Regions from separate parts of the Homo sapiens genome. Here all the other regions are reported to be linked to region 5. The links are microRNA targets in miRTarBase. Many come from high-throughput screens and were not tested one by one. Region 5 holds a microRNA gene; each other region holds the end of a gene's coding sequence. Distances are from middle to middle.
Evidence for each region. The annotated mature microRNA hsa-miR-4662a-3p reads AAAGAUAGACAAUUGGCUAAAU and lies in region 5 at 1,463-1,484, shown strand. An mRNA with a match to its seed (bases 2 to 7 or 8) in the 3' UTR can be bound and repressed. Matches are read on the target gene's strand: a 7mer-m8 pairs with bases 2 to 8, a 7mer-A1 pairs with bases 2 to 7 and ends in A, and an 8mer does both.

Region 1: the mRNA of SZRD1 is a reported target of hsa-miR-4662a-3p. Seed matches in the 3' UTR shown: 7mer-m8 at 2,919-2,925.
Region 2: the mRNA of PURG is a reported target of hsa-miR-4662a-3p. The part of its 3' UTR that is shown has no 7-base or 8-base seed match.
Region 3: miRTarBase lists NFIA as a target of hsa-miR-4662a-3p. Seed matches in the 3' UTR shown: 7mer-A1 at 1,505-1,511.
Region 4: miRTarBase lists UBQLN1 as a target of hsa-miR-4662a-3p. Seed matches in the 3' UTR shown: 7mer-m8 at 2,234-2,240.
Region 6: miRTarBase lists MAN1A2 as a target of hsa-miR-4662a-3p. Seed matches in the 3' UTR shown: 7mer-A1 at 2,536-2,542.
Region 7: miRTarBase lists HHIP as a target of hsa-miR-4662a-3p. The part of its 3' UTR that is shown has no 7-base or 8-base seed match.

The regions. Positions count from the first base shown.
Region 1 is chr1:16,394,043-16,398,562 of GRCh38, forward strand. SZRD1 (SUZ RNA binding domain containing 1) reads left to right here. Exons shown (of 4, transcript NM_001114600.3): 4 at 996-4,103. The coding sequence ends at 1,098. It also overlaps a transcript of SPATA21 not described here. Among named protein-coding and RNA genes, the nearest start is that of SZRD1, 29 kb to the left of the region's middle.
Region 2 is chr8:31,028,371-31,032,890 of GRCh38, reverse strand. PURG (purine rich element binding protein G) reads left to right here. Exons shown (of 2, transcript NM_001323311.2): 2 at 103-2,041. The coding sequence starts at 109. The coding sequence ends at 1,152. Among named protein-coding and RNA genes, the nearest start is that of PURG, 2.7 kb to the left of the region's middle.
Region 3 is chr1:61,453,778-61,458,297 of GRCh38, reverse strand. NFIA (nuclear factor I A) reads right to left here. Exons shown (of 11, transcript NM_001134673.4): 11 at 1-2,995. The coding sequence ends at 2,978. Among named protein-coding and RNA genes, the nearest start is that of NFIA-AS1, 200 kb to the right of the region's middle. RefSeq lists an enhancer at 3,780-4,520.
Region 4 is chr9:83,658,539-83,663,058 of GRCh38, reverse strand. It overlaps UBQLN1 (ubiquilin 1), which reads left to right. Exons shown (of 11, transcript NM_013438.5): 11 at 1,120-3,091. The coding sequence ends at 1,272. Among named protein-coding and RNA genes, the nearest start is that of IDNK, 38 kb to the right of the region's middle.
Region 5 is chr8:124,820,565-124,825,084 of GRCh38, forward strand. MIR4662A (microRNA 4662a) reads left to right here and starts at 1,421; the gene lies at 1,421-1,487. MIR4662B (microRNA 4662b) reads right to left here and starts at 1,494; the gene lies at 1,414-1,494.
Region 6 is chr1:117,522,258-117,526,777 of GRCh38, reverse strand. It overlaps MAN1A2 (mannosidase alpha class 1A member 2), which reads right to left. Exons shown (of 13, transcript NM_006699.5): 13 at 1-3,953. The coding sequence ends at 3,821. Among named protein-coding and RNA genes, the nearest start is that of TENT5C-DT, 81 kb to the left of the region's middle.
Region 7 is chr4:144,736,525-144,741,044 of GRCh38, forward strand. HHIP (hedgehog interacting protein) reads left to right here. Exons shown (of 13, transcript NM_022475.3): 13 at 1,240-4,520. The coding sequence ends at 1,433. All of the region lies in intron 1 of LOC124900791 (a long non-coding RNA gene), which reads right to left. Among named protein-coding and RNA genes, the nearest start is that of HHIP, 93 kb to the left of the region's middle.

The DNA of each region.
Region 1 (4,520 bases), not on the chromosome of region 5:
TTTTTTCTCTGCAGTATTAAAGGTTGCATCATATAAGTTTATCACTTTCGAATCAAACAGTATTCATTAAGATGGCCTCCTTCTAACTTTGAGGGGCTGCTATGGTTTGGTATTCTGGGACTTGAAGAAAAAATCTGCGTACCTTCTTTCTAGCTCTTCATAATTTTGAAGAGATACCTGTTCTTTTTGTTGTTTCTCCTCTAAGTCTTCACCTTTCCAGGGTGGAAAAATAGTCATATGAGTCAACCGTTAACCGCAGAGTTTGGAGAGGAGTGGGAGGGAAGAATTGGGGGGCGGGGGATGTGTCCCTCTGCTGAGCTCTTGATTCCAGTTCTTTACTTTGGCCTAACACTCTGGAGATTCCAAATGGTTCTGCGGAGCATGTGCTATCCATGGTCACTGCCTCTGGGCAGAGTGGGCCCTCAAGCACTCCCCCTGCCTACAAGTGCATGATGGCAGCTGAGCAGGGGGAAAGGATGCTGTAGCTGCTAGAGGTGAATGTGCACCACCGACCCTGCCTGCTCACAGGGGCCTCTCAACTTGGAGGTGCCCTGAGTCAGCTTCCCAAAGAAGCAGGCTTGCGGAGCCAGAGTGACGTGGGCCCAGCTATATGGACAGTTGATTTTAAGATGGGGGACATCTAGGCCAGGTGCAGTAATCCCAGTACTTTGAGAGGCCGAGGTGGACGGATCACTTGAGGTCAGGAGTTCAAGACCAGCCTGGCCGACATGGTGAAACCCCATCTCTACTAAAATTACAAAAATTAGCTGGGTGTGGTAGCATATGCCTGTAGTCCCAGCTACTCGGTAGGCTGAGGTAGGAGGATCACTTGAACTCAGGAGGTGGGGGTTGCAGTGAGCGGAGATCGTGCCACTGCACTCCAATCTAGGTGACAGAATGAGACTCCGTCTCAAAAATAAATAAAAAATAAAGAAATGATGGGGGACATCTATTATATCCTTCTTCAGGCCTTCCTCTGCTTTTCTTCCTTTCAGGCCAACCAGGATCTCCCAACCCGAAGACAGCAGGCAGCCCAATAATGTGATCAGACAGCCTTTGGGTCCTGATGGGTCTCAAGGCTTCAAACAGCGCAGATAAATGCAGGCAAGAAAAGATGCCGCCGTTGCTGCCGTCACCGCCTCCTGGGTCGTCCGCCACGGGTTGCACTGCCGTGGCAGACAGCTGGACTTGAGCAGAGGGAACGACCTGACTTACTTGCACTGTGATCCCCCTTGCTCCGCCCACTGTGACCTTGAACCCCATGCACTGTGACCTCCCCCCTTCTCCCCCTTCCCACTGTGATTGGCACATCGACAAGGGCTGTCCCAAGTCAATGGAAAGGGAAAGGGTGGGGGTTAGGGGAAGGTTGGGGGGACCCAGCAAGGACTCAGAGAGTCAGACAGTGCCACTTGGCCACTTGGGGTAAAGCCAGTGCCAGCAATAACAGTTTATCATGCTCATTAATTTGGGATTTCAAAACACAAATGAAAACTCACACCCACCCACCCCCAAGTGCATGTCTCCATCACTTAAAAAGTAAGTTCCATTTGAAAATATCCTTTCTTTTTTTTTTCTTCCTATTTTTGTTTGTTTATACAAATATCTGATTTGCAAGAAAAAGTGCATGGGAGGGGTTTTAGTGGTTTAATGAATTTTTAATTAAGAAAGGGTAGTTTGGTAGTCTACTTAAAAATGTTTCTGGGAAATTCACTAGAAACATTAACCAATAGGATTTTGGTGAGCTTAGCTTCTGTATTCCTACTGCCGCCCAGAAAAGGGGCAGGGCTCTGCAGCCGCCAGGACAGACGAGCACCCCATGCCTATACCTCCCTCCCCGAGCTAAGTCCCAGGGCATCTGGGCCTTGCCTGGAGACTGGGCTAGCTCTGTAGGCTCGGAGAGCCTGGGGAGGGTGCCAACCCCACCTCTAGTATTTTGGGAGATAGGGAAAGTGAACCGACTTCCCCTTCCCATACCCCTCAGGGTGGTTCCCTACCAGCCAGGCTTACTACTTCTAGAAGAAAGCAGAGTGCCAGGGAGTGAGATTGCATCCCTGGGCTTAGAAGTGACGGAGAGAAGACTTGTTTAGTATTTTGCCATCAGCACAAGGAAAACCAGGAGAGAGTCTGCCTCCAGGACTCTGAGCCTTCTGCCTCGTATGTTCAGAAGGTGGATAGGTCTTCCCACTCCAGCATGGCTTGAACTCTTAGGGGTCTGCAGTGCTCCATCTCCATTGGTGGCCCCAGCTCAGTAACTATACCTGGTACATTTCCTGTGTGCAATCAGTACCTTGAAGGCAGAACATTCTGAATAAAGTTGGAAAAAGAACAGCTTTGCTTTGCAAAGATTGATGACAGACTGGTTCCTCAGAGGCCTAGGCTACCCGTCACCCCTTTTTCCAGAGCGAGGGCCTGGAATGAAGGCAGTTTATCCTCTGTCCCTGGAGCCTGGGGTTTGCTTTGGCTCCTTGAGGTGGAAGAGACTAAGAGGGCAGCTGCCCAGAGCAGCTGTGTGTACCTGGCTCCTCTCAGGCTTCCTGATCCCTTCCGTTGCACTGCGCCTTATCCCTCAGCCAGCCAGACAGCCTCCCTGCTCCTGACCAGCAGATACGTTTCGGAGTGGTTGGTGTGGTTTTTGTGATGAGGGCAGCACGTGGTGGCCAAGGTGGCAAGCTGAGTCTCACAGGCTCACTCCCTCGTTGGTTCCCTGTGGGAATGGTAGGCCAGGCCCAGTAAGCCATGCCCCAACACGTCCTCTCCTCCGGAGGAAGGGCCAGCTGCCAGCTGAGTCAGCAGCTAGTCCATAGCACAGCCTTATAACTGTAAAGCCAGGCATTGCCCATGAGCAGAGCTGGAACCAGAGCTTCAGTCAGTAAGAGGGAGGATTACCTTCAGGAGAAGGCAAGGAAGAAAACTGGCTGCTATCTTTATAGTTCCACTGCCCTAACCAAGTGTCCACATTCTAAATGTGTAGTGTCCATCCCTTATGTAATAGTGGTTTCCCGCCCAAAGTGAGACTTTCCTTTTAATTGGAGAAGGGTATAGAGGTAGTCCAGGTGGGAACGCCAGAAGTGCTGATTGCCCAGCCATTGGGACCACCTGTTCTTGCCCCACTACCCTCTAGTGGGAGGCCAAAGTAAAGGCTGGCTGGTGGGTGTCTGTGGATTGAGGATGTGGCAGGGACTGGTCCTCCCACCTCCCTCTGGCCAAAGATGGGCTTTGCCCGCTGTGTGCCTGTCACCACCCACCAGCAGTCATGCCCTGGGCTTCCCAAATGGAGAGGTAGCAGGCAACGTTTTTAAAAAGAAAGAAAACAGGAAACTGTATTGTGTCGGGGGAGGCGGGAGGGAGATGAGGAAACGGTTTGGATTTTGTGTGTGGGAGGGTATTTTTTGGGGGTAGTTGTCTGTAACTTTCCTAAGTGCTTTTTTTCCTTTTCTTTTTTAAAGTAAGTTGCAGGCTTTGGCTTGGAAAACCCCAGGGGGATGGGGGGCAGAAACCTGAGGCTGCTGCCCCTTTATCTGCCTTCACGGTACTGTCCCCTTCCCCCAGCTCCTCCCTGACCCCATGGGCCAGGCCTCAGACCTTCCAGCTAACCGCTTCCCATGAGCCACTACTCTGATGTCAGCCTATAACCAAAGGAGCTGGGGGGTCCAGGCCTGGTGACCAACCTTTCTCAGCCCACTCAATCAGGGTGCTCCCCACCTGCAGGCAGGAGGCAACACCCTATCTGCTACCATCAGCCCCTTCCAGAGCCCATCTGCCCCGCCCAGCCCTGCCCTGCCCAGCCATACCCTGCTCTGCCCCATCTGGGGGTGCCCTGCTCAGGGATGGGCTGGCAGGGCTGTACCCAGCCTCCCTGGTAAGCAGAGACTCAAGAAACCTCTGGGGTCCTGTTTTCTGGTCGTGTGATCCCAGGGGTGCACATGGGCCCCTTGGGTGTCTGAACAGAAGGGCATGGGAGGGAGGGCTGCACCCCTGCAGTCTTACTCTGCTGGTGTAGCGGGCAGCTGCCCACTCCCACCCCACCCTGCACCGCGGGCTCCTGAGTCGGCAGATTAAGCATTTTATAAATTGTATTTTAAATACATGTTTTAAACTTGTCAGATCTTTGTCCTCATTTCAGTCCCTGCCCTCTACCTCTTGCTGTGGCCGCTTATTTAACCCTGGGGGATTTCCCTCTGCCCAGTCCCAGGGAAAGACTGTCTTTGGTAAAACACGAGGCCGGGTGGTATGTGGGTTGAGGGGAAAGGACCCACCCCTCTTGGGGCTCCCAGAGAATGAGAGCCCTGGGTCCTGGGGCTCTGTCGGGGGAGCATGCAGAGGCCACCTCCTGCTCTTCCACAGGGCCTGTCTTAGAGCCAGTGGAGAGAGAGAATGGCTGCTTTTGTGGGGCTCCCAGTCCAGAGGGGGATGTGCTCACCTGAGGAGAGGCCTAGCCCTGTGCTTTGAGAAGGCACAGAAGGTCAAGACTGCACGCAGGGGCACCTGTAGCAGAAATCCCAACCCCGCGCAGGGCTTTG
Region 2 (4,520 bases), 94 Mb from region 5:
GGGGTCGCGGGCGGCGGCGGGGCGGTCAGGCCGAGGGGCGTCTGCGATTGTTCTCAACACCCCTCCCCCACCCCATCCCGTGTGTCTGTTTGTTACTTGCAGCTGAAGATGGAAAGAGCCAGGCGAAGGGGAGGCGGCGGCGGCCGCGGCCGCGGAGGCAAGAATGTAGGGGGCTCTGGCCTAAGCAAGAGTAGACTCTATCCCCAGGCCCAGCACTCCCACTACCCCCACTACGCGGCCTCAGCCACCCCTAATCAGGCCGGGGGCGCAGCCGAAATCCAGGAGCTGGCCTCCAAACGAGTGGACATCCAGAAAAAGAGGTTTTACCTAGACGTGAAGCAAAGCTCCCGGGGCCGCTTCCTAAAGATAGCCGAAGTCTGGATAGGGAGAGGCCGGCAGGACAACATCAGAAAGAGTAAACTGACCCTCTCCCTGTCTGTGGCAGCGGAGCTGAAGGACTGTCTAGGGGACTTCATCGAGCACTATGCCCACCTGGGCCTGAAAGGCCACCGGCAAGAGCATGGCCACAGCAAAGAGCAAGGCTCCAGAAGGAGGCAGAAGCACTCGGCACCCTCCCCACCAGTCTCGGTGGGGTCCGAAGAGCATCCTCACAGTGTCCTGAAAACAGACTATATCGAGAGGGACAATAGGAAATATTACCTAGACCTAAAGGAAAATCAGCGGGGTCGCTTCCTACGGATTAGACAAACCATGATGCGGGGGACTGGCATGATAGGTTATTTTGGCCACAGTTTGGGCCAAGAACAGACTATTGTCCTCCCAGCACAAGGAATGATTGAGTTTCGTGATGCCTTGGTTCAGCTGATTGAAGACTATGGCGAAGGAGACATAGAAGAACGAAGAGGTGGAGACGATGACCCGCTTGAACTCCCAGAGGGGACTTCTTTCAGAGTGGACAATAAAAGGTTCTACTTTGATGTGGGCTCTAATAAATATGGAATTTTCCTGAAGGTAAGTGAGGTGAGACCACCTTACCGTAATACTATTACTGTTCCATTCAAAGCTTGGACAAGGTTTGGGGAGAATTTTATCAAGTATGAAGAAGAGATGAGGAAAATTTGCAACAGCCATAAAGAAAAGAGAATGGATGGCAGAAAGGCCAGTGGTGAAGAACAAGAATGCCTCGACTAGAGTGAAATTGAACTCCATCAGGCAAAATTTAAAATCACAAATTGGCTAAAAGTACTGATCCATTATCCTTTGAAGAAGTTTTTCCTCTTTTTTGGCCCGTTGTTATTAGTAATACCTCTAGTAGTTGATACTTCAGGAAGTCTGATTCTCATGTTATGTTACACATAGATCACTATAATTCTTACGGGAATTCCAACCTTCCCAGAGCTAAATAGTTTAGCTGCTTCAACTGCTCCAGACTATTGAAGTATGCAAATCAGCACAAAATGTGACATTCTGACATTCTAAATACCATAACTAAGATTTACATTGCACTATGACATAATCCCGAAAAAAGATACATATACTTAAATAGAAGTGTGACTTTCCCCCAAAAGTATTTCAATTCTACTTCATTAAAAGCTGCTAAGCTTACCTGTAGGGCAGTTACCACAGAAACAGAAATTGACCTCCGGTATATATAAATATTTACTTATAAAAGTACAAGTAGACGTATATTGTCCGTTGAATAACTGAATATACCATCAAAGGATCAAATCTTATTACCTAATTAAACCTTAAAAATATAATGTCATAATATTTCTTAAGAATACTATAGTATTCTATAATTTCAAACTTTGTGGTAACCCTACATTTTATAGTTGCCATATCAAAGCCATGGGAGAGTTTTAATTCGTTATTCTAAGTTTAGTTACAATCCCTTCTTTACCTCTACTTAATGTTCCATATATTTTTATTGACTTTCCAAAGTTTCAGGAATTACTTTTATGTCACATTGAGTGGGAGGCTTCATCCAATGGCTTTGCTATGGAAATCTTGGTGGTGTAGCTTTTCATGCTAATTTAAAGATTGCAAGAGGTTTCTTCCCCAAAATATATCATGGACTCAAGGTGTTATACTTTATGCTTCTTCTTTAACACTCTTTCAGAAGGGTTGGTGTACCAATTAACTGATATAAAAATATACCTGTAATAATATATTTTAGTAGCACTTTTGCAATTGCTACCCTTAAAACCATGTCAACACTTCCAATATAATCCTGAATTTTACAGGTGTTTTAATTCTGGAGGGGGTGGGGATTTTTTTTTTCTAAAAATAATTTAGAATACAAATTTCCAGTCTGAGAAAAATATTATTTGAAGATTGGTTATAAATATATTTGAAAGGAAAATTCAGGCATTTTCCAAGGTGCTCTTTCTGACTTTACACAAGACTCACCCATTTACCTGTATTAAAAATTACTTTCCAGGAAGTGCCACAGCAATTTTTCAACACCTAAGCAATTTTTTAAACAAGTGGATATAGTGTTATATGTGTACCAACCCATCCTGTATTAATTGACTGAAATTACATCTATTCAGCTATATTTTCTTCTGAATGAAATTATTGTCTTTTATCTTGGCTTTATTCACCTCCCACACAATAAGTCCATCTAATCATATTTAAGAGCCAGAACACTGATTTCAACCCCCAAATATCACTCTCATTGATGAGAGCTGGCTGCATGGATTCAAATCAGAATGTAGCTCTTCTTTTATATGCTAAAAGTAATTTAAAATTATATCAGCGATTTTTTTCTTCCAGAGTTTTGTCCCCCAATACCTTTACGTGAGGTCACTAAGAAAACTTGATGGTATGAATTAAAAAAATTAATTTCATTGGTTTATGTTACTTAAGAACAAGCAATCAGTAACCCCGACATATATACTAGTGTTGGTTTGCAGATTGTATTTCACATTTCCTCTAGTAGCGTGAAGGAATCTCATTAGTTCATTATAATTGTGGACCATCTGGATCACTATGGAACAACTGAAGGTTAGGAGATAATGTTAGTACTAGAGCTAATAGCACATGGTGGGTGTTGAGACTCTAAAAGTAGCAAGGATTTTTAAACAGTCCTAACTGTAAAATAACTATGTAGGCTTGCTAAAAAAGTAGTTTTTGGTCTATGAAGGAATGATGTGCACTTGAATTACTGTACTACTGATTGTTATTGCTGCCCATCATAGTGCCTATTAATAATAATCAACCTGTCAGATTTTGGCAAACTGGAGCTGTGAATATTCTAGTATTTGATTGTTCCTATCGCTATTGCTATGAGTGTATACACTCTCTTAAAGTCTTCCTTTCTAAAATATTTATATCCATTAGGTCTAAATGATTTCCTTTTACCTTTTGGGTCTGATAAGATTTGGGTATGTGTCTATATCTATATATATACACACAGACATATGTATATACATGTATACATATATATGTGTGTATACATACATACAATACCATGTCAGACTTAAAGATAAATATCTTTAACTCATTGTATATAAACATTATTAAATTTAGTTTTCCATTAATTATTTAAGTAAAGAATTAGTTAAGCAGCCAGATTTTCTACTTTGTATGTATACTTCAAAGTTTTTACCATCTCAAAGCTGCAGATTAAATAGATGCATATATACTGGCAATTGAGTATACTCTAAAATTATTAAGCCTTCTGCCAGTCCTTTTGTTTCATTTTTTTCATAGTTAATCATTCAAAAATGAGATGATGCTATGACTTTTTGATACTTAAAATTCCCAAGAATTCATTAGCCGTAATTAAATATGATCCAGTTCAAAACTCTGGTCTTAGGACATGTATTGCCATGTATCTTATAAAATAAGCTACTATTCTTATCTGTGCAATATGCATTTTATTTATTGTCATTTGTAACATACATGGAGCTGCAAGTGTTCATGGTATCCTTCAAAATAACAGAATCCCTGCCTTGAAGACATTAAACTCTTAAGGCAACTGGAAGTTAGAAGTTAAAAAATGAGCATGAAAGTTAGTAACCAAAAGTACTAGTTCACTGTATAATTCTAAAACACTGATGATGTTTGCACCTAATAATCCAAGCATAATGTGGTACAGGCTCAAACTGTAGTAATATAAGCTAATAGTATGAAATTTGGAAACGGGTTCCTCTTGATAGTTGGCAGTGTGCTCCTAGCAATCGAAAGCAGCACTAATCTGTTGCTTTATGCAAAAGATGCAATGTATTATAAAGATATTAAAGTTCCTCTACATTTTATAATTTTCCTTGTTAAAGCCCCAGACTGCCATGTCCCTGAAACTTGAGTCAAACACAAGCTTATTTGCACTAAAGAGCATGGCCAAAAAAATAAATGACAGGGTGGAAAAGCTAGTTGGAACCTCTTGAAATAATTGGTTCTAATATGAGAATTTCACATTTGTCTATTTGAAAGCTGTATGGTCCAGGCAGACAATCTGTCAGTTCACTAATTTAATAATGCACTTTACCTTTTGTATATAGAAGATGTACATTTATGCCACTTGACAGGTGGGATGTGTTTCAATAACTATGTAG
Region 3 (4,520 bases), not on the chromosome of region 5:
TTGCAAGGTTCTGACAAAATGTTTGTCTAGGCTTTTTTCCCTTCACTGTGAAGCACTGAAAGCTGCTATTTTTTCTTTTTTTTTTTCTTTTTTTCCTTTTTTTCATTTTTTAGTGCACATATGTCATAATAAAGTAATGCCCAGCTAAGTGCTATAGGGGAAGGCAAAGTATGCTGGCTGGCTATAGGAAGTGACACCATACACTGACAATCACACCATACAACAGCGCCAAACGACTATTCAACCACTTATCAGACACATATGAAAATCCAAAATGTTTTATTTTATTTTTTTTTCCTTAAATAGAGATAACCAGTAAACAATTTTCAGAACTTGGAAGTTTAAAAACGTGCATATAAAAATGGGCATTATATACTTTTTATTGAATGTGGATTGACTGCAGTCTGCTAAGAAAAATGGGGTGTGGGAGCTGAAGAAAAAGGAAGTTGTCTTTTTTTTTTTTAAGGCTTGCTTGTGAAAGGAACAGTTGTAAAAACAAAATTGCTTGAAGCAGGGTCAGCTTAGTGCTTCACAGTTTGACTGCTTCTCTAAGAGGAGCCCTTCCTGCGCACGTGCATTCAAAAATCACAAAAAAGTACAAAGACAAACACCTAAAACACACTGCGTCAAGTGCAGCACCGACTTTGGTCAAATAAAAAAAAATAAAAGAAAAATTAATAATTGCTAAGCTTTTCTACATGATATAAGCAGGTATTGCATATTTTCATATATCTGGGGGAAAATAAAGGAAGACTCCAAATAAATTGTAAAATGCAGCAACATCCAAAATACTGATATTCTAAGCATCTACAGATCTCAGAATAGCACTGCCACCGACCGTACAGGACAATAAAGACTACTCCTATCTGCGGAACAACTAGCTTTCTATTTAGTTCTAGATGTTGAAACTGACGATGGCTGACATAAAAGTCACATTTACAAAAAGTGTCTCCAAATGCTTGACTAGGGAAAAACCCCTTTCAATAGAGGAGCATGTGCAACAATTCCACAAATAATCGCTATCCAGGGCAAGGCACATTGATATGGAATTTTTGTTTTCGTGCAAATTAAGGAAAAAAAACAAAACAAAACAACATTGTTTCGGGGAGAAAGATGAGGAGCAAAGTGTCTTCCCAAGAATTTCAGTTACTTGATTGTATAGGACAGTAGTAGAACCCTTCTGAAGGGCTGAAAAACATAGTTTAAAGGCAAGTGCCTAGAGTAGGGATTACAATATTGTGTCTTAATGCACTCTACTTTATCCTACATTAACTATATAAAAATTAGTTACTAACACTAGAACATGCAGAGACTTTCTCTGATCAGCAGGGCTTGCCAACCAGAACGTATATATATGTATAGTATAGGAAACCTTCTTGAAGTCGCATGGGAAGCAAAGGGGTGCTTCGCTGTCTGGTAGAAAAATCACTTGCACTTTTTTTTGTTTTTGTTTCTGTGGTTTTTTGTGTTTTTTTTTTGTTTTTGTTTTTTGTTTTTTTTTTCATAAGATACAGGACGTTTGGGGGTGCAAACTTTTTTTTTTTTCCCTAACAAGTACCCTTGATCTGAATGGGCACCAGCATTTGTGTCAGTATTGGTTTCATCATTATTATTATTATTATTATTACTATTATTATTTCCCATAGCCCAGTTCAGGGATGCAAAGGTCTTTAAAACTTCTGGACAATCTCTGGTACAATGAGGTGTCTGATAACTGATAAATCCTATGATGCCAGATAGGTGTAAAATTTTTTAGAATTGGCGTAATCCATTATAGTGACTTCTAGCTTATAAAATTAACAGATACCATGATTTCATTTTAGTCATGTGCTTTGATAACAGAAAATAATTAATTAGCATTTAATGTAGTTAACATATTGTGGTAAAAGCACCATTAGATTTGTTTTTTTGTTTTTTTTTTTTAATTTCCTTCAGTTTTTAAAGGGATACAAGTTTAACAATAAAAAACATAAAAAGCAAAAATAGCTCCCCTTTTTCTTGCAAGGCTGTTTTTTACCCCAATAATTTAGAGTCCTGGGGTGAAAGGACTAGAAAAACAAAAATAGAATTTTCAACAATCTCTATCTTACAAAGATATTTAGCTATCCAATGAAATTGCACTTTACTCAATTCAAAATTCGATTGTTTTGATTGATTCCTGTCAGTTTCTGTCAAAACAGACCATCTTCCCCATTTCCATGTGAATTTTTGTGTCATTGTTGAAATTGTTGAAAAAATGTTGTTGTTGTTTTTTTAAATGTAAGTGCAGCATTTCAAAACTTTTAAAAAACTGAACAGTAGTAGTAGTAGTTTGCCATTTTCGGAATTGTTCTGCAATGTGAGTGGATTCATTGTCCTTGCGGGCCATGTTATATACTTAACTGCTGACTGCTGAACCAAAACAAACTAAAGGAACAAATAAAAAAGGAATATAACTGCATTTTCTTTTTCCAATATGTTACAGAAAAACATTGCCCTTTGACTGTCCCGTTATATATTGCAGATCTCAGCTACTACAAAAGATTTAGTTCTCCATGTGCCTCCTCAATGCTCAAGGAGGATCACACCTGTGTGGGTAAATTCATGAAATACTGTGAAACAGCCAGGCTCCGTAAGGAAAGTGTGTTACAACAGGAAGTCAGTGAGCAAGGGTAGTCCTCCGCTAGCCACGTCACCTAATGCTCACGCTACCATGGAAACACTTCAAATGTTACAAAGCCCAACCATTTCCAGCACCATATGAGAAATTACAACAGTCCCTAAAGTATTTTAAAAAAAAAAAAATCCCAAAAGGTTATGGCCTTTGCTGTTTGACCATAATGCTTGCTGTTTCCATGTACAAGTTGATTTGAATCGGTTTTTCTCCCCTTCCGCTGATAGTGAAGTTGTAACTGCGCTGGGTTGAGGTTGCGTCCATGTTACAGAGTTGAGAAGGGGTCAGGTGGTCTGTCTGGTGGATGGTGGGACGCTGCAACTTTTATCCCAGGTACCAGGACTGGAAGACAAAAGGAAAAATACAATTAAAATCACAATTTGTAAAAACGTGTGTTTTAGAAGTTGCCTTTTCAACCACGAAATCAGGATCTACGTTAGGGATGCGGGAGGGATTCGCTGGGAAAAGTAAAGGCACGACAGACAATAAAAAATCCTGTGACACTGAAACTGATCTTATTCTTCTGAAATTATAATTCATTGTCTTCATTGGGGTTTTCCAACATTCTGAGTATATCTTACAGAATGAGGTATTTCTGTTCACTTGAAATACAAATAAGGGTTTTGTTAACTGATGGGGGCAGTTATAGGAGGGCAGGAAACTTGACCATCTTGTTTATCATTCAATCCTCAGTGCCTAGCCCAGTGCCTGGAATACAGAACGTTCTTAATGAAGAAGAGTTGAATGAATGGAGAATGGGTAAAGGGAGGGGTTTCATGTGGCAATGAATGGCTACTCTGATGATTTTCAACATCTCCTTTCAAATGAGGTGCAGGCACTGAAGCCATGATTGTGACACTCTCCTAACAGGCCCAGATGGTCAATAGCGACACAAGAATAAGTGGAGGTAAGGTGGAAAAAGTGCTGGACCCAGTCTTCCTGGGTGATTTTGAGCAAGTCACAGTATTTTTCCTTCCTTACATATGTAGGATTTTATGAGGGAAGATGCTCCTTTCAGCCCAATATATCTAAAATGGTATTTTCAAACATGAAACATAATAACTAAGTAGGATCAAGATTTTACTCTATTAAGTACCACATTGTCCAAAGGAAAAATGAGGCCACTGCGTACCCTTCATTCATGCTTGCGTCCATGCAGCATTTATTTAGAGCCTTCTGTGTGCCTGCCAGGCCCAGTTACTGGTTACCTTTTCCTTTCGTAAATCCTTAGGTGGTTAGCTTTGAGCAATTGTCTGGTCATATATCACTTTATCTGCTGGCATTTCTTTTTCTGTTAGCTAGACAGAATGAGCAATTATGGACTAACATCAGAGTTAGTTTCTCCAGTGAAATAAAAAAGTATGTGGCTTTTGCCGACTTTTCTCTAGAGATACCTTGACAAATTCACTACATTTATCATTATTTACAGAAAAATTACCAAGGCCTAACAAAAACCAATGCTTCTGAATTCTTTAAGTTGACGGTATCAGAAAGGGTTCTAATTGGGTTGCTTCAGGCAGGTGAAGGATCATCCCTGTGGAAGAGATTCCATTAGGTAATGTAAGGACTCATTTGGTCCCCAGGGATGAATGGCTAAGTGATAGCTACATGGAGTTTGGTATAAGATTTCCTAGTCACACAAGCCACCTTTGATTTCCAGAGGAGTTTAAAAAACTTAAGCCCAGACCGAAAAACTACGCATCCTGTAGACTTTCAGATGTTATTCTTTGACCACATGCTTTGAGGAACACAATAAAGCCTCTTGTGTCCTGAAAGGAAATCAGCCTGGCAAATACACATGGCCTAAATCTAGCTGGACAAAAGAAAGAAGAGGGGGAGAGAAAGGAGAGAGAAAGCAAACCCCAAA
Region 4 (4,520 bases), not on the chromosome of region 5:
CTTTTGACAAAGTGCCCAGGCTGGATGCAATCACAGCTCACTGCGACCTGCACCTCCTGGGCTGCAGCAATCCTCCCACCTTAGCCTCTGGAGTAGCTGGGATTACAGGCGCAGACCACCACACCTGGCTAATTTTTGTATTTTTTGTAGAGCTGGGGTTTCAACCGTGTTGCCCAGGTTGGTCTCAAACTCCTGAGCTCAAGCGATCTCACCCGCCTTGGCCTCCCAAAGTGCTGGGATTACAGGCGTGAGCCTGGCCTGCTTTCTGTTTTCAAGCCTTACTAAATATAATAAATAGGGTAGGGTTCTGTCTCATACATATCTGTATTCCTGATAAGCTAGCGTAGCATAGTTTCTGGCTCTTGGTAGGTACTCAGTAAATATTCATGGAATAAATAAGAAAGAAGGATTTGGAGTATTAGAATTAATTGTGACATAAGTTAACTTACAAGCCTCCAAATTATCAGGTAGGCCTAGGATTGATTGGTCATTTATATGGAGATTTTTTTTTTTAACTTCATTTCTGAAGAAAAGATTTGATGCTGCTGAAATGTCAGAATTAAGAGTATAATTTTGGGCCTGAAACTGAAGCTCTTTTCTAAGAATTGACTGTCCAGTGCAAAAATTAAACTCACATTCATTCGAAGAATCATTGAAGCTTTAGAATTTTATACATGAGGATACCAGCTTTTATAGTTACTCAATTGGTCAGTAGCTACACAAATCATCTAATTCTGAACTATCTGTGTGTGTGTGTGTGTGTGTGTGTGTGTGTGTGTGTGTGTATATGTATATGTATATACACACACACATACAGGTTTTTCTGCATGTACGTGATCCTCTAAAATAATGGTTGATGTTTATTAAGCTTTTCTCCCCCTCCCCTAAAGTAGAGTCGTGATCTATTTGACATGATTATTTAGGTACAAACTAGACTATTTAAAATAAACTGCTAATGGACTTTTAAATATGTTGGATAAGTTTCAAGAGGTGGGCAGTGTTTTTAAAGCTCAGTAGATCAGCATATGTTATAAAAAAGCAATTAAAAAATTTTAAAAGTCATGTGTGGCAGGGACTGGCTTCCTTTAGAGTTGGATTAATTTTTTTTTTCTTTAATAGCTACAGAATCCAGAAGTCAGATTTCAGCAACAACTGGAACAACTCAGTGCAATGGGATTTTTGAACCGTGAAGCAAACTTGCAAGCTCTAATAGCAACAGGAGGTGATATCAATGCAGCTATTGAAAGGTTACTGGGCTCCCAGCCATCATAGCAGCATTTCTGTATCTTGAAAAAATGTAATTTATTTTTGATAACGGCTCTTAAACTTTAAAATACCTGCTTTATTTCATTTTGACTCTTGGAATTCTGTGCTGTTATAAACAAACCCAATATGATGCATTTTAAGGTGGAGTACAGTAAGATGTGTGGGTTTTTCTGTATTTTTCTTTTCTGGAACAGTGGGAATTAAGGCTACTGCATGCATCACTTCTGCATTTATTGTAATTTTTTAAAAACATCACCTTTTATAGTTGGGTGACCAGATTTTGTCCTGCATCTGTCCAGTTTATTTGCTTTTTAAACATTAGCCTATGGTAGTAATTTATGTAGAATAAAAGCATTAAAAAGAAGCAAATCATTTGCACTCTATAATTTGTGGTACAGTATTGCTTATTGTGACTTTGGCATGCATTTTTGCAAACAATGCTGTAAGATTTATACTACTGATAATTTTGTTTTATTTGTATACAATATAGAGTATGCACATTTGGGACTGCATTTCTGGAAACATACTGCAATAGGCTCTCTGAGCAAAACACCTGTAACTAAAAAAGTGAAGATAAGAAAATACTCTTAAAGCTGAGTATTTCCTAATTGTATAGAATCTTACAGCATCTTTGACAAACATCTCCCAGCAAAAGTGCCGGTTAGTCAGGTTTGTTGAAAATACAGTAGAAAAGCTGATTCTGGTTATCTCTTTAAGGACAATTAATTGTACAGACACATAATGTAACATTGTCTCAACATTCATTCACAGATTGACTGTAAATTACCTTAATCTTTGTGCAGACTGAAGGAACACTGTAGTATACCCCAAAGTGCATTTGCCTAGGACTTCTCAGCTTCTCCCATAGGTAGTTTAACAGGCATTAAAATTTGTAATTGAAATGTTGCTTTCACTGAAAAAGTGTCTTGATGTTTCAGTTATTTTTAATCGCCATAAAAAAATAGAACTATCTTTTGGGTTTATCTGTTTTCTCATGCACAGGCAATACACAAATTTAAAATGAGTTGTGAGCCAATTGTTTCTGAAGTGTTTTGGTAGTTCTATTAAGAAATAGTTAAATATTGTGCTTTTCAGAGCCTCAGAGAAAGGGGGACGGGGTGGGGGGGTGGGGCAGCGGAATCTGTCCTGGATGGGGCCAGCTTAAATAATACTGGCAACCAAGATTCTGTTAGGATTTCTGTGCATATAGTGTAGTAAAGAAGTATCATTCAGGGGTGAAAAACAAAGAGCCGTTTTAATGATGTTGAGTACATTTGGCTGTTTTATAGCCTTTTTCTTCCCTCCCCCAAAGAATTCTGTTTGCCTAACTCCCAAACTGTTGGGGTGGTACATTCCTTTAGGACCAATTAAAACATAATTGAGGGTCAGTGATACATTTGGCTGACTCTGGTTCAGTATTCTCTTAGGTGATTATATTCTCTCATGTACAGTTACAGGAAATTAAAATGTTAAAGTAACCTAAAATGAATTCAGACCAATAAAATCAAGGGAAATACAAGTTGATTGCATTACTTCTGTATGTTGCTTGCTATTAAAAAGGTTAAGAGGCCAGGTTACCCACCAGTCCTTGCACTGTTCTGACACTTTCCCCAGGAGGAAAACAAGTACAAAGGTTACGGTGGAGGCATAAGTAGAAGAGATTGTTAAGAAGGGTATTCATGTGTCTTTGCTCTTTCTGCTTTATGCCTCAGTTTGGTTTAAAAACTTCTGTACTGGCAAATGGTGGTATTCAGTGTGGGATAGTGTCATAACTAATTTGACAATTTATTAATCATAAAATAACAATAAATCTCTAGCTTTTACACTTGATTTGTCTTGCCTCTTTTGTAGAAAGAAAAAAAGTCTTTAACTTTTGCTAACCATGTGTTTTAAAGGCTATTGGAGTTGATTTACCCCAGATTTTGTCACATTTTACATTCTTTATTTTTCAGGTTTTCCAATTAAAACGTCACAGTCTTTTGTGGTGTGATAAAAAGATAGCACACTGGGAAGGTAGGTGACTTGAGCTCCACTTTTGATCTTGGTACTTGACTAGTTATGTGACATTGAGGCGTCATGGTTTCTTTATTATACATGTGGTGGTGAGGCTTATAGGTGTGCTGGACTGGGCGATAAGCTCTGAAGTACCTTTAAGCTACTGCAGTGGTATGGTTTTTGTTTTTAATATGTTTATTTAGGTCTAAGTCTAAAGATAAATATCTACATCTTAAGGGGTTCAAAATACTTAAAATTCTTATCAGCACTTAAAGGATGTTTAAAATACTGTAGGCTTAAATTGTTCTCATATTGAGTGATAATATTTAGTACAAATTGAATAAAGAATGGGGTAGTGAAAATAGCATTTCAGGATTTTATTTCCCAGTTATAATATTTGCGATATCCTAAACAAAGTCTAGCAAATATTGAAAAATCAGATAAATGACACCTGGCCTCTGTGTGTATTTAGAATCTTGAGTTTCAGACTTGGTTTAAATATAATAATGAAAAGAGTCTTTTATTCTTACTATGTTAATTTAATAGGCATATATCACAACAAAATATAACAATGGATAACAATATGCTAGTGACAAAAGTGAAGCTAAGCCGTGTGTGCAATGACATACACATGATTAACAAAAAAAAATGACTCTGTGATTAATGCAGGGAAATACTGCATATTGTACTTCTTCTCATAGAGATTAATATTATATTACAATTAACAGGAAGTCTTGCATGAAAGAAGTCTATTTAAAGTTTTATCAGCTTTTTCCAGTCTCACTAGACCATCTTTTAACTATTCTTTAAGGTGATGCTGTATACAATGAACACCCTTCCTATACTTCGTGTATCTACCCTTCTCTGGTGTCGCACATGGTATTTATCTACTTTGGCTCCTATAAACCCTACCATTCTTTCTGGGCTCAGTTCTGAAGGCGTCCTAAACTTTGCTGATCCAGTGTTTGGGAAACTCTTAACTGTTCATACTTAGTCTTTACTGTCAATTGCTGCATTTTGCTCCCCCCATTCACCTTGTAGCATTTTGTTTTGTTTTTTATTTTTCTGCTCTAAAATTGTCTTGGCAATTACCTAAGTAACATCAGTTGTTCCTCTTCAACTTCTCTGTATCTTTTCTCATAGGCAACTATTATGTCAGAAAGTCAAATTATTGAACATCTACTGAGTGCCAGGTTCTTTTCCAGTTGCTCAGAGTATAGCAGCAAATAAAACAAGATTGTGTCCACATGGGGTTTACA
Region 5 (4,520 bases):
GTGCTAAAGATTTTCTCCCATATTTTTCTCTAAAAGTGTTGAAGTTTTATGTTTACATCTAAGTCTGTGATCTATGTTAATTTTTGTATAAAGTTTTAAAGTATGAGACTTAAGTTAAAACAAGAGATTTTGTTTTGTTTTGTTTTTTGCTCCAACACCACTTGTTGAAAAGAGTTTCCTTCCTTCATTCACTCGCTTTTGCACTTTTGGTATTTTTGGTAAAAAATCAGTTGAGTATATTTTTGTGGGTCTATTTCTGAGTCCTCTATTCTGTTTCATTGATTTGTGGGTTTATCTCTCCACCAATATCATACTACCTTGGCAACTGTAGCTATATAGTGAGACTTAACACAAGGTAGAGTGCTTCCTCCTACTTTTTAAAATAGTTATCACAGCTATTTTATTTTCAAAATTTTTGCCTCCCATACAAATTTTAGAATAAGCTTGGCTTTGTCTACAAAATCTTTTTGGGATTTTGATAAGAATTGTGTTAAACTATTGATAATTTGGGAAGAATTGACATCTCCACTATGATGAGTCTTCCAGTCTATGAACATGGTATTTCTCCTCATTTATGTAGGTCTTTATTTTTTCATCAGCATTTTGTAATTTTCATCAGAGACATAGTATATGTATTTATACCTAAGTATTTTATTTTCTTTGAAGTGATTGTAAATGGTATTGTTTTTAATTTCAGTTTCCCCATGTTCATTGACAGGATAAACAAATGCATTTGATTTTTGAGTGTTGATCATGTATTCTGTGACCTTACTTAATTCACTTATTAATTCTAGGAGGTTTATTTTAGTTTATGTTTTTTAGATTCTTTAGGATTGTATAAATAGACAATCATGTTATCTGCAAATAGAGATGATTTTATTTCTTTCTTTTCAATCTGTATGTCTTGTATTTCTTTTTCTTGCTATATTGCACTGGCTAGAACTTCTACTACCCTGTTGAAGAAGATGTTGAAAGCAGACATCTTTGTCTTATTCCCAATCTCAGTGGGAAGACGTTCAGTTGGCACCATTAAGTATGATGTTAGATGTTTTTTTTTTTTTGTAAATGCTTTTTCACAAATTGAGATATTTTTCGTCTGTTCCTACTTCAGTGAGTTTTTTTGAAAAATAGGGATCATACTTTGCTTTCACAGGATTGCTGTGATGATTCTAGGTGAAACATAAGTAAAAGTTTATGGCTGTTGTGGGCCCTCAAATAAGGTTTAGAAAAACAACCTTTGGACAACATTAAGGCGAGTCATTACAACTTAAAGTGAAACCTTCTGTAGACAAATGATCTCACATCTTCACTTCTAGGTATCTCTTCTGAAGAAACATTGGCTCATGTCCCAGAGATTTATATACAAGGAAGTTTACTGCAACCATGGCTGCAACAGAAAAAGCCATTGTGTACCACAGTGTCTATTTAGCCAATTGTCCATCTTTAGCTATTCTGAATGCCTAAAGATAGACAATTGGCTAAATAGAAATTGTGGTACATCCATACAATGGAATACCATGAAGCCATCGACAAAACATCAAGATTCTATTGACCAACATGGAAAGAGTGCCATGGATGGGCACGGTGGCTCACACCTGTAATCCCAGCACTTTGGGAGGCCAAGATGGTTATATCACCTGAGGTCAGGAGTTTGAGACTAGCCTGGCCAACATGGCGAAACCCTGTCTCTACTAAAAATACAAAAATTAGGTGGGCATGGAGGCAGGCACCTGTAATCCCAGCTACTCAGGAGTCTGAGGCAGGAGAATCGCTTGAATCTGGGAGGTGGAGGTTGCAGTGAGCTGAGATTGTGCCATTGCACTCCAGCCTGGGCAACAAGAGCAAAATCTCAAAAAGAAAAAAAAAAGAGAGAGAAAAAGTGCCAAGACACAAGGTTAGGTGAACAAAGGAAGTCTCAAAACAGAACAATTTGATTTTATATTTATAAATGGCATAATATATAAATATGGCTTATAAATTTATACTTATATCTACATACATATAGTATATAAGTATGTATTTTTAAAACCCAGTCATATATTGTAAACACATTCCTAAGTGCATAGAAAAAGGCCTAGAAGGACTTGACACTCATTTGTTAACATCGGACATCCTTCGGGAAATGAATGGGATTGGGTAGAGTACAAAGGGGTACAAAAGATCACTTTAAAAAACTTTATAAATATATTTGGTCTTTAAAACATTTTTTTACAATGATAATGTTTATATTTACTATCTGTTTACCTAAATAAGACTCAGGTAGTATGGGGCAGGGAGTAGCAATTTCTAGTGGTAAAATTTCAGACAATTGTTTTCCATAGTCACTGGGACCCAGAATTCCTGAGCTCTCTTTGTTCTATTGCTGGCTGCAATATTAGTTGTATGATTTTGGACAAGTCACTTTCTCTCTCTGGGCCTCAGATTCCTCTTGTAATGAGGAGATTAAACTAGAGTACCCATGGATAAGCATTTTTATTATTCACATTTAAGCATCTGACCTCTCTTTGCAAATAGGTTTTTGTATGTGGAACCTTTATGTATACAACAGAAGAAAGCATGTCAACAACCCAACTATTTGTACCCCGGATCCATTTCAGCACTAACGTTTTCTGACTGGAGTTGAAGGCAGTGAACCCAAAGCCACCCGTCAGAACTATACTGCCCCTCAGCTGAGTGAAAAATAACTGGGTGATTTCAAGTGACCCACAGAAGCTCAGGAGTGACAGTTGCTCTCATAAAATGTGTTCCCTGAGCATTAAGCCCTGGTGTTGGCAGGGTCTGATAGCTCAGGGACTGTTTGAGCTCCAAGGAGATCATTACTGTTTCTAGAGAGTTCTATGAGGACCCTGGGTCTTTGGAAGAACTATCCATTTGTGGTTTTTAGGAGAATCAGGTCCTAGATCACTGAAGCCACAGCCCATGGCCCAGAGCTGTAGCTTTACTGCTTTGGGGCTGCAGCAGGGAGGCGAGGCCACCTGGGGAAGCTGAGGGCAAGAGTAGAGGTCAAGTGCAACACACAGCATGCTGTGAAATATGAGAAAGGCTCATAGTGTCTTTTCTTTGAAATGAAAAGCGCCATCTCGAGTTCTGTGGAATTGGGTCCAGCCTTCCTTGGCTATAACAGGCATGATAAGGATCATTTTGCCTCCTTTAGGAGCAGGGCTAGATGTCCTACAATTCTCTGCATTAGTTGAGCCCATGGACAGTAACAGCCATAGTCTGAGATATAAAAAAAAAAACAGCACATCGCCCAGAAAAAAGCCTGGGCCCTGTGCTTTTGGGATTCTATTCGCACGTGTTTCGGACTGGCAAGACTCAAACCCAGAAAGAGGGACTCCCTGAGAGGGGAAAGGCGGACGTGCAGGGCCACTCTGGCCTAAGTCTTCTCTGTGGATCGAAGCAGAAGGTAGGAAGCCGGTGTTTTATACCTCCCTGCCTTTCCCTGCCCATTTGTGGGATGGAGAGCTGGGGGCCTGGGTGAATGACCTGTTGTAGTTCAGGTCCACACTCCTACCAAGGCACACCAGCATGGAGGGCGGGAGACCTGGGCTCAAGCCCCAGTTGGGCCACTTTCTCATCGAGGCTAGTCACATGCCTTTGCAGGTTCTCAGTTTCATTGTTTTTAAAAAGACCATTAGATTAGATACTTTTAAAGGTCCCTGCCAGTAACACTCAGTGATTCTAGAACTAGATTGTAAGAGCCTGGCAGGGTTCCACTTATTTGGTAAGAGGAAAGGAATAAGCTATAATGGTTAAGTGTGTGGAAACTGGAATTAGATTTCCTGAGTTCAACTCCTGATTCTCCTTTACTTACTGTGACTTTTGGAGAAGGTTTTTAATCTCTCTGAGCCTCAGTTTCTACATTGGCAAAATGAAAATAAGAGCTGTAGTTGATGTTGTTGTTTTAAGGGATGCAAATGATAATCTGAATGAAGCTTCAGGATCCAACAGAGTAAATGTTCAATAAGCCTTATCTTATTGTTTTGTATTTCCCCAGTTTAAGATCATAACAGGAACTGGCTAAAATTACTTCTTGATAAAACAATGCCCCTTACCATAGATTCAATTATCCTACAGGCCAAATCATGTGCCCCATGAGGTTAATTTGTTTATTCAATACTAATTAATCAATATTTATTGAACATCTTAAGTGTGGCAGACACTGTGACAGGACTGAGGATGCAAAAGCATCAAGATCTTATTATAGGGCTGGGCGCGGTGGCTCACGCCTGTAATCCCAGCACTTTGGGAGGCCGAGGCGGGAGGATCACTTGAGGTCAGGAGTTCAAGACCAGCCTGGCCAATATGGCCAACATAGAAACCTCGTCTCTACTAAAAATACAAAAAAAAAAAAAAAAATTGGCTAGGCATGGTGGTATATACCTGTAGTCCCAGCTACTTGGAAGGCTGAGGCAGGAGAATCTCTTGAACCCAGGAGGCGGAGGTTGCAGTGAGCTGAGATTGAGCCACTGCACTCCAGCCTGGGCAACAGAGCGAGACTCTATCTCAGAAAAAAAAAA
Region 6 (4,520 bases), not on the chromosome of region 5:
TTACTAGGAACTGTTATTTGGAACTTTGAATATTTTAGTATATTTTTCTTTATATTTAACAGCATGGGACTATTAATAGGGCCCATACCAGAGCAGACACAATTTACAACTGCAAGTTTTACCCATGAATTATGTGACAAAATCTTTTTGAATATAAAATAACCAGCATTTCTATAAAACACTGCTTTTTAATTATGCAATTAAAGTGATATAGCAAAATAAGAACGTTTTTATTTCTAAAGTAAATATTTTAGTCAAAGTTGCATCAGAAATCAAGTATTTCTTTGACATTTTCAAGAGGTTTTAGTTATTAACTACAATTATAGTTGTATTATACAGTAACACATTGTTTTAAAATATATTATAAACCTTTTCTTTTTCCTCTTTAATTTATATGAAATATAAAATTAAGAATTTTGTAACACGATTCATATTGGAAACATTTAAAATGTTGTGAGCTACTCTCATACAGAAAATGCTGTGGAATCACATAAAACATTCTAATGATTGAAAGTGCCAGGCACAATGCTTGGCACATGTTAGATACTTCATAAATGTTCGTTCACACATTCTCTCATTTACTCATGCACTCATTCAAAAAACTCCAGGCTTAAGGAGAAACTGCATTATAAATGAGAATGGCAAACACAATCTTTTATCAACAAATTTGGAGTTTTGACAAAGACTTTGGCAATGGAGAGTGGAGAAGATGAGAGGATGATGATTAATATTTCAAACTGCTTGGTTAAAATCTAGCAAGTATAGCCCTGAGTTGCTCTATATGACATCATAGAGGATCAGGGTCAATACTCCATAAAAAGAATGCATTTCCCTTCGATACCCAGGTTTTATTTTACATATAAACACCTGCTTAAAGTCAGGAATACGCTGATGTTAGAGAGATACAAAATGTGCAACCCACAAGAAAGTAAGAACCACCTGACTGGGGACTTATTTTTCTGAGTTGAGACTTCTTTTTGGTTAGGGCCCCATTCCCTTGGTTTTAACAACTTAATACTGGTTGAATAATAATAATAATAATAATCTGGTTTAACATAAAAAGTGTGATTCTAAAATGAAGAGAAATAAATGTAGAAGGAAGAACAGTGTTCAAAATTCCTATTTTTTTCGATTATGCACCAACTGATGTATCTATTCTGCACATTTGTGCCAAAGGCACAAGGTAAGGTGTCAGCTCTTTGAAGAGGCACCTGAAAAGGACCATTTCTGGGCTTTTTGCAGAAGATCTTATAAATGCAATGAATATTTAACCTGAGTATTAAGGTCTACAAAATGCAAAGAGCTGTAAAAGACAGAAGAAAGTAAAGAATATTCTTGGAAGCTAAGCATTATATGGGATAAGAATTGATCTTGAAGGAAATAATTTAAAAATCTATAACAAAAATAAAACATGACACTGGCAAGTCATTTGTAGCTGACTTTAATTGCCTTTGGTATTCAGGAGAATAAAAAAATGGAAGTACTTTTATAAGCTCTAGTCTTTCCATCACATAGAAGGTAAGGAGTGGTGAAGAAGACCCTTCCATTGTCCCTGTCAAATTCTTTGTTTGTACCAGAACTGGCTCTGCTTGTATACTTCCCTGCCTTCTCTTAAGCTTCAGTCATCTGGGTAATACAAATAGAGCACTTGGAAGTAGGGGTTCTGTCTCCTCATCCCTTGAGAAGTTCCTGCAGAACCAAGAAGGTCCCTTTACTCTGCATTCTTCTAAATAAGGTAAAAGAGAATTCAGAGAGTTCATTGCCATCTGCACTGCTGCTCTGCATCTTTGCCAACTCAAGTTTTTCACTTTTTCTCAGTGATTCATAAGTGGGCTTGTGCTACTTTTACGAGGAAGGCTAACATTTTTTAGAACCAAATACTTTCCCTTTTCCCTTCTACAGTTACAGTAATATATATACCTTTCTCATTTAGAAATTTAAATGTTCAAGTAGTAAAAGATATTACAATGTCAAAACATGTGCTATAATTTAACTCTCTTAAGGACTATTGTAACTGGCCCTGCATCCTTATTTTCTACTGAAATTTTTTTGCAGTGAAAAATTTTATACTGAAAAAATTTGCAGTGGTTATCATTTACGGATCAGTAGAACTGTCAAAATTAACGATTCGTGGTATAAGATGATCAACCTTAGAAAATACTATATTAGTTAATTAAGTCTTTCCCCAACTTAAAACCTAAGTTTAAAAGAAAAGCTTATCAAACAAGAAAATAAGCCTTCAGAATTCCAAGGTGGGCTTCTTGTACAAACTTTGTTTCAGGAAATCTTCAAATTCAGAGTAAATGTTATACTAATTATACTGTTTCTAAGTTTTATTAATGTCAATGGAAGATGCCTATATTAAATGAAAAGAGCAAAAGTATCTTGCACTGTCACATAAATTTAAGGACAGAAAATTTATAAGCACTAGATATTTATCTTACAGTTCCTGATAAAATTTAAGTTCTTTTTGTCAAAATATAAAGAACTAGTAGTTTATTTAAAAAGAAATATCAATGCAAAACCTACTGATAGTAAGATAAAGTTCCTTAGATGTATCCCAATTTTAGTGTAATATGATTAATTACAACACTCTTTTATCACTGAAAATTATTTTGAAACTATTCTGATTCTTTGGAATTCTATAAATATTCTTGGAGAAAATTAAAAAAACATAAAATATCTGTGAACAACTCACTCATCTGATGAGATTATAAATAAAAGATCCCCTGTCCCTATTCCAGATAGAATATTTTAGAAAGTTTCACTGTTTGTTCTGCTTTAGTAAGTTATAAAAGTAATTTATTTAGCTTATCAAGGCAAATTTAGAGCTGCCTTATAGTGATTTTTGCCAAGCCACATAAATAAAGTTGTAAGTTGAGTGACTCTACTAACTTTATTATGAAATTAAAGTGAATAAAATTTACTTGGTAGATGTGTTGGTCTGGAAAAATAATGTAGCAACAAAACCAAGGATTGCTCTTAGGTTTCAAGGCAACAAACTGCGGCATTTTCCCCACTTTCTGTCATGCTACCAACACTAGACTGAACTACATGCACAAAATCCCAAACCCAGGCTCATAAGTGGTGATTATGATAAATAGCAGTTTCGATGATTCCATAAGAAGAAAAAGACTTGAGTATTCTTTGTGAGATCATGCCCCCAGAGAAAATTAAACTTAACCAAGAAATTTCAATGAAATAGACTGGGATTTGAAATGGTTGCCAGTCTGGTCATCCAATGGGGAACTTGAAAATTCAGATAGGGATAGGTACTCCTGTTTCTTTTTTGAGTCTTCTTGTTACTGATATAATTATACTATTCTTTTGTTCTTGTTTATTTTAGTTCATTCCATTATTAAAATGGAGAAAAAGTGATAAGCAATATGTAAATATTTGATTTGAATGCTGCTCCACTGTAGGAGGAAACAAATACATAATTGGTTCCAAAGGCCATCTTGAACTCCTGCAAGGTGCTCTATATTCTTGACTTGCTTTCAGGAAGTCTAGCCTCCAGACTTCAGGACTCTAAAAACAATACAGTAGTAACAGGTATCATTTCTCATGTGACCACCTCATTAACGATCAAAGCACATCCAGGTCTCTGTCCTACACATATCAGAACATGTTTTGGTCAGGTATAAAATGGAATAATTTCAAAGTTGATGTATCTACAAGTTGAACAGTCTTAGGGGGAATAGTTTCACCCTGTCATGTTGACATAGAGGTCCAGGTTTTCAAAAGCCGCCCCTTCAAACTAATTTCTGTAGTGGTCCATGTAAACAAAACACAGGTGAGAATGGTCCTTCTGGAACTGCTTTCATCGAACAGCAGGATTACCTGAAAGTGTGGTGTTGGCTAAATGTAACACAGGCAGAGGGTGAGCCTCTGTATTAAACACCCAGTGGTCTAAAGGTAAAAGGTCATCACCGGAGAACAGCAGATACAAATATCTGAAAATAAAAAGGGGAGAAATGAGCTTCAGTTAGAATTCAACAAGAACATGAAGTGAGCTCACTTTTAATGGCACAGAAAACCAATAACGTATTTTGAGCAGCTTTGATGAAAAACATCAAAGAAATAAACCTCAGACACCCAAATGATCTAAACACAAAGACAAGAGGTTTCAGAATAGTGTATAAGAAATCCAGTAAGATGAACAACTAGACCTACTGAAATAAAACAGTTTAAAAAAAAATCCGGCCAGGTGTGGTGAAGAGAGCAGACACCTTTGTCTTGTTCCTAATCTTAAGAGCAACACATTCAGTTTTTCAATATGATGTTAGCTGTAGGTTTTTCATATATGCCCTTATCAGGGTAAGAAGTTTCCTTCTATTCCCAGTTTGCTGAGAGTTTTTATCAGAAATGGGTGTTGGATTTTGCCAAATAATTTTTCTGTCTACTGAGGTGGTCTATTTTAGTTCATTGATTTTCAAACATTAAATCAACCCTCCACACCTGGGATAAACCCATTTAGTCATAACATATTATCTATGTAATTTGTTGTTAGAGTTGATTTG
Region 7 (4,520 bases), not on the chromosome of region 5:
TGAAGCCTGCTAGTGACAGTATATTTAAACTGAGGGTGAATGAATTATCTCAAATACAGATGGCACTATATATACCTTAATAGATATTAATAATAAATTGTGATATAAATGAAAATAGACATACATTGAGTTAACATAAAGTTTTACTCCATGAGGTACTTTCATTTTTACACTGAATCAATTTAAATAGTTTGAATATATAACATTTACCAAAACCATTTTATAAAAATAATCTGTTTATGTGGGATGTTTTGGACCTAAACAGGAATTTTATTCATGTACTCACATTGTTTACTCATCTCCCACAGATTTAAAGCATAAAATTGTTTATTTTCTTCTTACTTTTTCTATCCCATGTGTCAACCACAGACACCTGGAATTTGATTAACGCATTTGAAAGGTCAAAATGACCCTGTCTCGTCAAAACATAAGGAAATGTATTGAAGGAATTTGACTCCATCCCCAGTGACTGTACTCCCCAGATTTAATCAGAAAATAGCAATTTATATACCCAATTTTATGTCTCATTTTAGCAGTATATCTTCTTATTTCCCATTTATATTGTAGTGGTAAAATTCTTTAATGAATAAATTCTGTGCTGTAGGGTAACCCTGAAAAGGTTTGCTCAGAACATCCTTTGCTGGCCAACTGCACTGACTCCAGAAAGAGACTTCTAAGTGTAATCAGAGAGCAAAGCATATGCTGTCTGCCCCCTGGAAGCAAGAGGAAGGAAGAATCCAAGGGAGTTTATATGGTGGATATTCCACCCAACCAAAATCCAAAACTGACTGTTCCTTTCTGTTGCACTGGAGTTGCTTGAGCCTCTGTGTCTCCCCCTCAGGCTGGGCCACTCCCATGTTGAGATCCTACCTTGAAGGAATGGGAACATAGAGCTTGGGAGGCCCTCTGTAGAGAATGCTCCTGTGAAGCAGAGATTTCAAAGGACTAAAATCTTCATTTTAAATAGAGTTAATTTTGCAAAGGGTTGCAATTGTTTCTCATGATCTCTGCTTCTCTAGAAATGTCTCTCATTCTCTGCTGAGTTCAGGTCTCCAAATAACTATGGGTGTAAAAGCCTGTTTCCTACTTGCATATTTATCTTTCAGATCATTTTGTAACTATCTCCCTCCTTTTTTCCCTCGCTTCCCTTATTCAGCAAATATTTGTTGGTCTCATGCTCAGTCCTGTTTCTGACATACAGAATGAGAGTGTGATGTTCTTGCTCTTTTTCTCTCCCAGCAAAATGTGAGCCAGCATGTCGTCATGGAGGTGTCTGTGTTAGACCGAACAAGTGCCTCTGTAAAAAAGGATATCTTGGTCCTCAATGTGAACAAGTGGACAGAAACATCCGCAGAGTGACCAGGGCAGGTATTCTTGATCAGATCATTGACATGACATCTTACTTGCTGGATCTAACAAGTTACATTGTATAGTTTCTGGGACTGTTTGAATATTCTATTCCAATGGGCATTTATTTTTTATCCTGTCATTAAAAAAAAAAGACTGTTATCCTGCTACACACTCCTGTGATTTCATTCTCTTTTATTAATTTAAAAATAATTTCCAGAAATGTGCAGATCCTCTGTGTGTATGTCAGCATGTTTGTTCACATATGCACATACACATACTCATAACCCCTATATGCGTTGTTGCATAACAGATGATTTTTTAAAATATATACTTCCTTATGCAAAGTAATTTACACAGAAATTCCATTGTAAATTGATAATGGATTTTTTATGTTACTAGAAGAGATTATTTGACTTCCCAGGAATTTTCTGTCTGTAATCACTAAAGTCAACTTTAATAGAGTTTTGAAACAGTACTGTGCAATCCGATGGATCTAATTAAAAAAAAGGCAATATTTTTATATTAAAGTACTATACTAGGAGAGAATGTTTCAGAACTCCCTGATGAATTTCTAAGTGAGCAACTTGATATAAAATTGTAATCTTCATTTTTGTCAGTGTATCCAGTTACAGAATGCTACACACTTACCTTTTTATTGGCTGAGAAATCTGGTTATTTCATCTTAATCTCAAGATTGTTTTCAAGTGTTTTATAATTAAATCATAATAGCATATTTTAAAATCAATCTTCCTAAAAGGTCTGCTTTTATTGTATATTTTATTTAACAATAGGCACTGGGTTTGTGTTACATATTTATATATTTTATTTTATTTTTATAATATAGACATCACCTAGATGAAACACCTTTACCCTGTCCTGTAAAACACTAAAGTTACATTTTTCACCAACTTAATTGGAAAGAAGGGGAGTGAGAAAGCAAACAGTCTTTAATGTGCTGTGGATCTAATCTAGCAAGGTATCCTTGTGCCAACATGTAATCATTAACGACGGATGAAAAAGCAAGAAAACAGCCAATCCTTATAAAATTCCAGCATTAAACATTTGTAAAGTGCTTTTCACCATAGCAAGACTGTCAGAGTCTATGTTATTAGAATGTTGCAGATTTCCACTGAATCGAACCTCACTGGAGAAGAGCTCACTTGTTTTTAAAAATCTTGGCTATGTAAGCTGTCACCTGTACAAATTTTTAACATAATAATTCTTGCCAAATATGACTTTAAATGTACGTGTTCCTTCAGAACTCAATGAAAATACTCTTTGGCTAATGTATCAATAAATTTTCTGTAAATGTTCTGTTCAGGGTTTTACAGAGATGACATGTTCTGACTTAAAACTGCAAAAAGTCTAGTAGATATTTTTCTTCATGGTTTTCAAAGCCAGCTCTCCACGTTTGGATTTTAACAAAATATAAGGCCTCTTTGCACTAGTGAAAAAACACGTCTACTCATGACAAGTGCACACCCACTATGGCTGTCCTTCTTCTGTAAACATCCATTCCTCTAGAATCTAAATTGTAGAGCAGTATAGATTATGCAGCGCCAGCTGACTTTCTAAACCTTCTCCTTACCTTTAGGAATACAAGCCTCAATTTAAAAAATATATTGTAGCTAGTATTTCTCTATTGTTTTAAGGTGAGAGATTTGCAATTAAAGCCCAGTAAGCATTTATATAGAAGCCACAATGTAGAAAGATTGGTTAAGTACACTGCTCTTGTCTTCCATATATGATTACTTAAGTTTCAAGTGACCTCATGCCAAATGGAAATGGGTTGAGAAATCTTGGTTCAGTGCTTAGTGAACAATAGCCTGCATTAAAAAGTGCATGCATAATTTTGCACAATTTAGATTCAATTGACAGTCTATTCAAAGAAGTCTCAGGATTAAATGAGCATGGAGACCAAATTGCCCTCTTACCCCAGAAAAGGGGTGGTCCCTTCTAGTCACACTAACACTTCATTGGCCCAACAGTGTGACAAATCTTGCAATGAACCATGCAGTAGCCTGCATCTGTAGGTTAATAGCAATCTTTTGTCTCCATTGCTTTCTCTTCATAGCCCTTTTACTGAATTCCATCACAGAAAGTTTTACAATTAAAAAAAAATGTCCTGACAACCATTTTTGTAAATGGACCTTACCATCTAATTGTCCCTTATTCAACGTGGGTGACATTAACAAAATGTGAACTTCTTGTGAGGGAGCCAGCTGTCTAAATCTGTCAAATCGTGCAGTTTTATTACACATTCTCCAATTCTTCCTAGTTTCCCTGAAAACAATAAGGATACTGCTATATATTCAGTAAAATCTAAAAAAATCAAGCATTACTTCTTACATCTTTAAACTTTCCATCTCCTCCCCAAAATAAAAGGTGTTCTATTGCCATTAGTTCTACTGTTTTAAAATATCTATATTAAGTTGACCAGGCCCAGATTTTTTATACAGCTTTTTCCCAAGTGAAAGATTTTCAAGTGACTTAGAAAAACATATGTGCCCCAGGTGTCATTGCCTTTTCTTTTGTGAGTCATTAGAATGAAAGGCCAAGTTCTTCTCAAGAGAAGATAGCAAGATCCACGGATATTAAGCCAAGCAAAGAAAGTAAAATCATTGGAGTCATTTCTTTCTGTTCTTAGGAGAAAAGTAGATAGCACTGGCTAATTGATGGCAACATATTTTAAATTAAGTGGTCAATTCAAAAATTCTCTTTGACCTTTTCTTTCAAGTAGATTTTTTTAAATGCATGACTGGAGAATTATCTTCAATGATTCATGATGAGAGGCAGGTAGGAATTGGTTAAGAAGTATGAGCAGGAAAAAATTATTGTTTAATCACATGAAAGGCAACATCTGTTCAGTTCATAAAGCACACAGTCTCGAATGGAAGAAAAAAAGGTCCTTCGTAAGAATACTGATGCATAAGATAAAGACGAAATAATGAAAAAGAAAAATGTATATTATTATTCCCTTGTCCATTCTCAAGTTTAAGCTGCGGTTGTCAGTTGAATGTGAAATGATGTTATAGTTGTTTTAAATGGTTGGAAATAACCTTTCTACTACTGTTTCTGCCACACTGTTGTCCTGGTTCATAGAACCTTGTTTTCTTGACAGTTATTTAAGGTAATAAAAGGAACACAATTTGGCAGATCTTTAAGTGAAA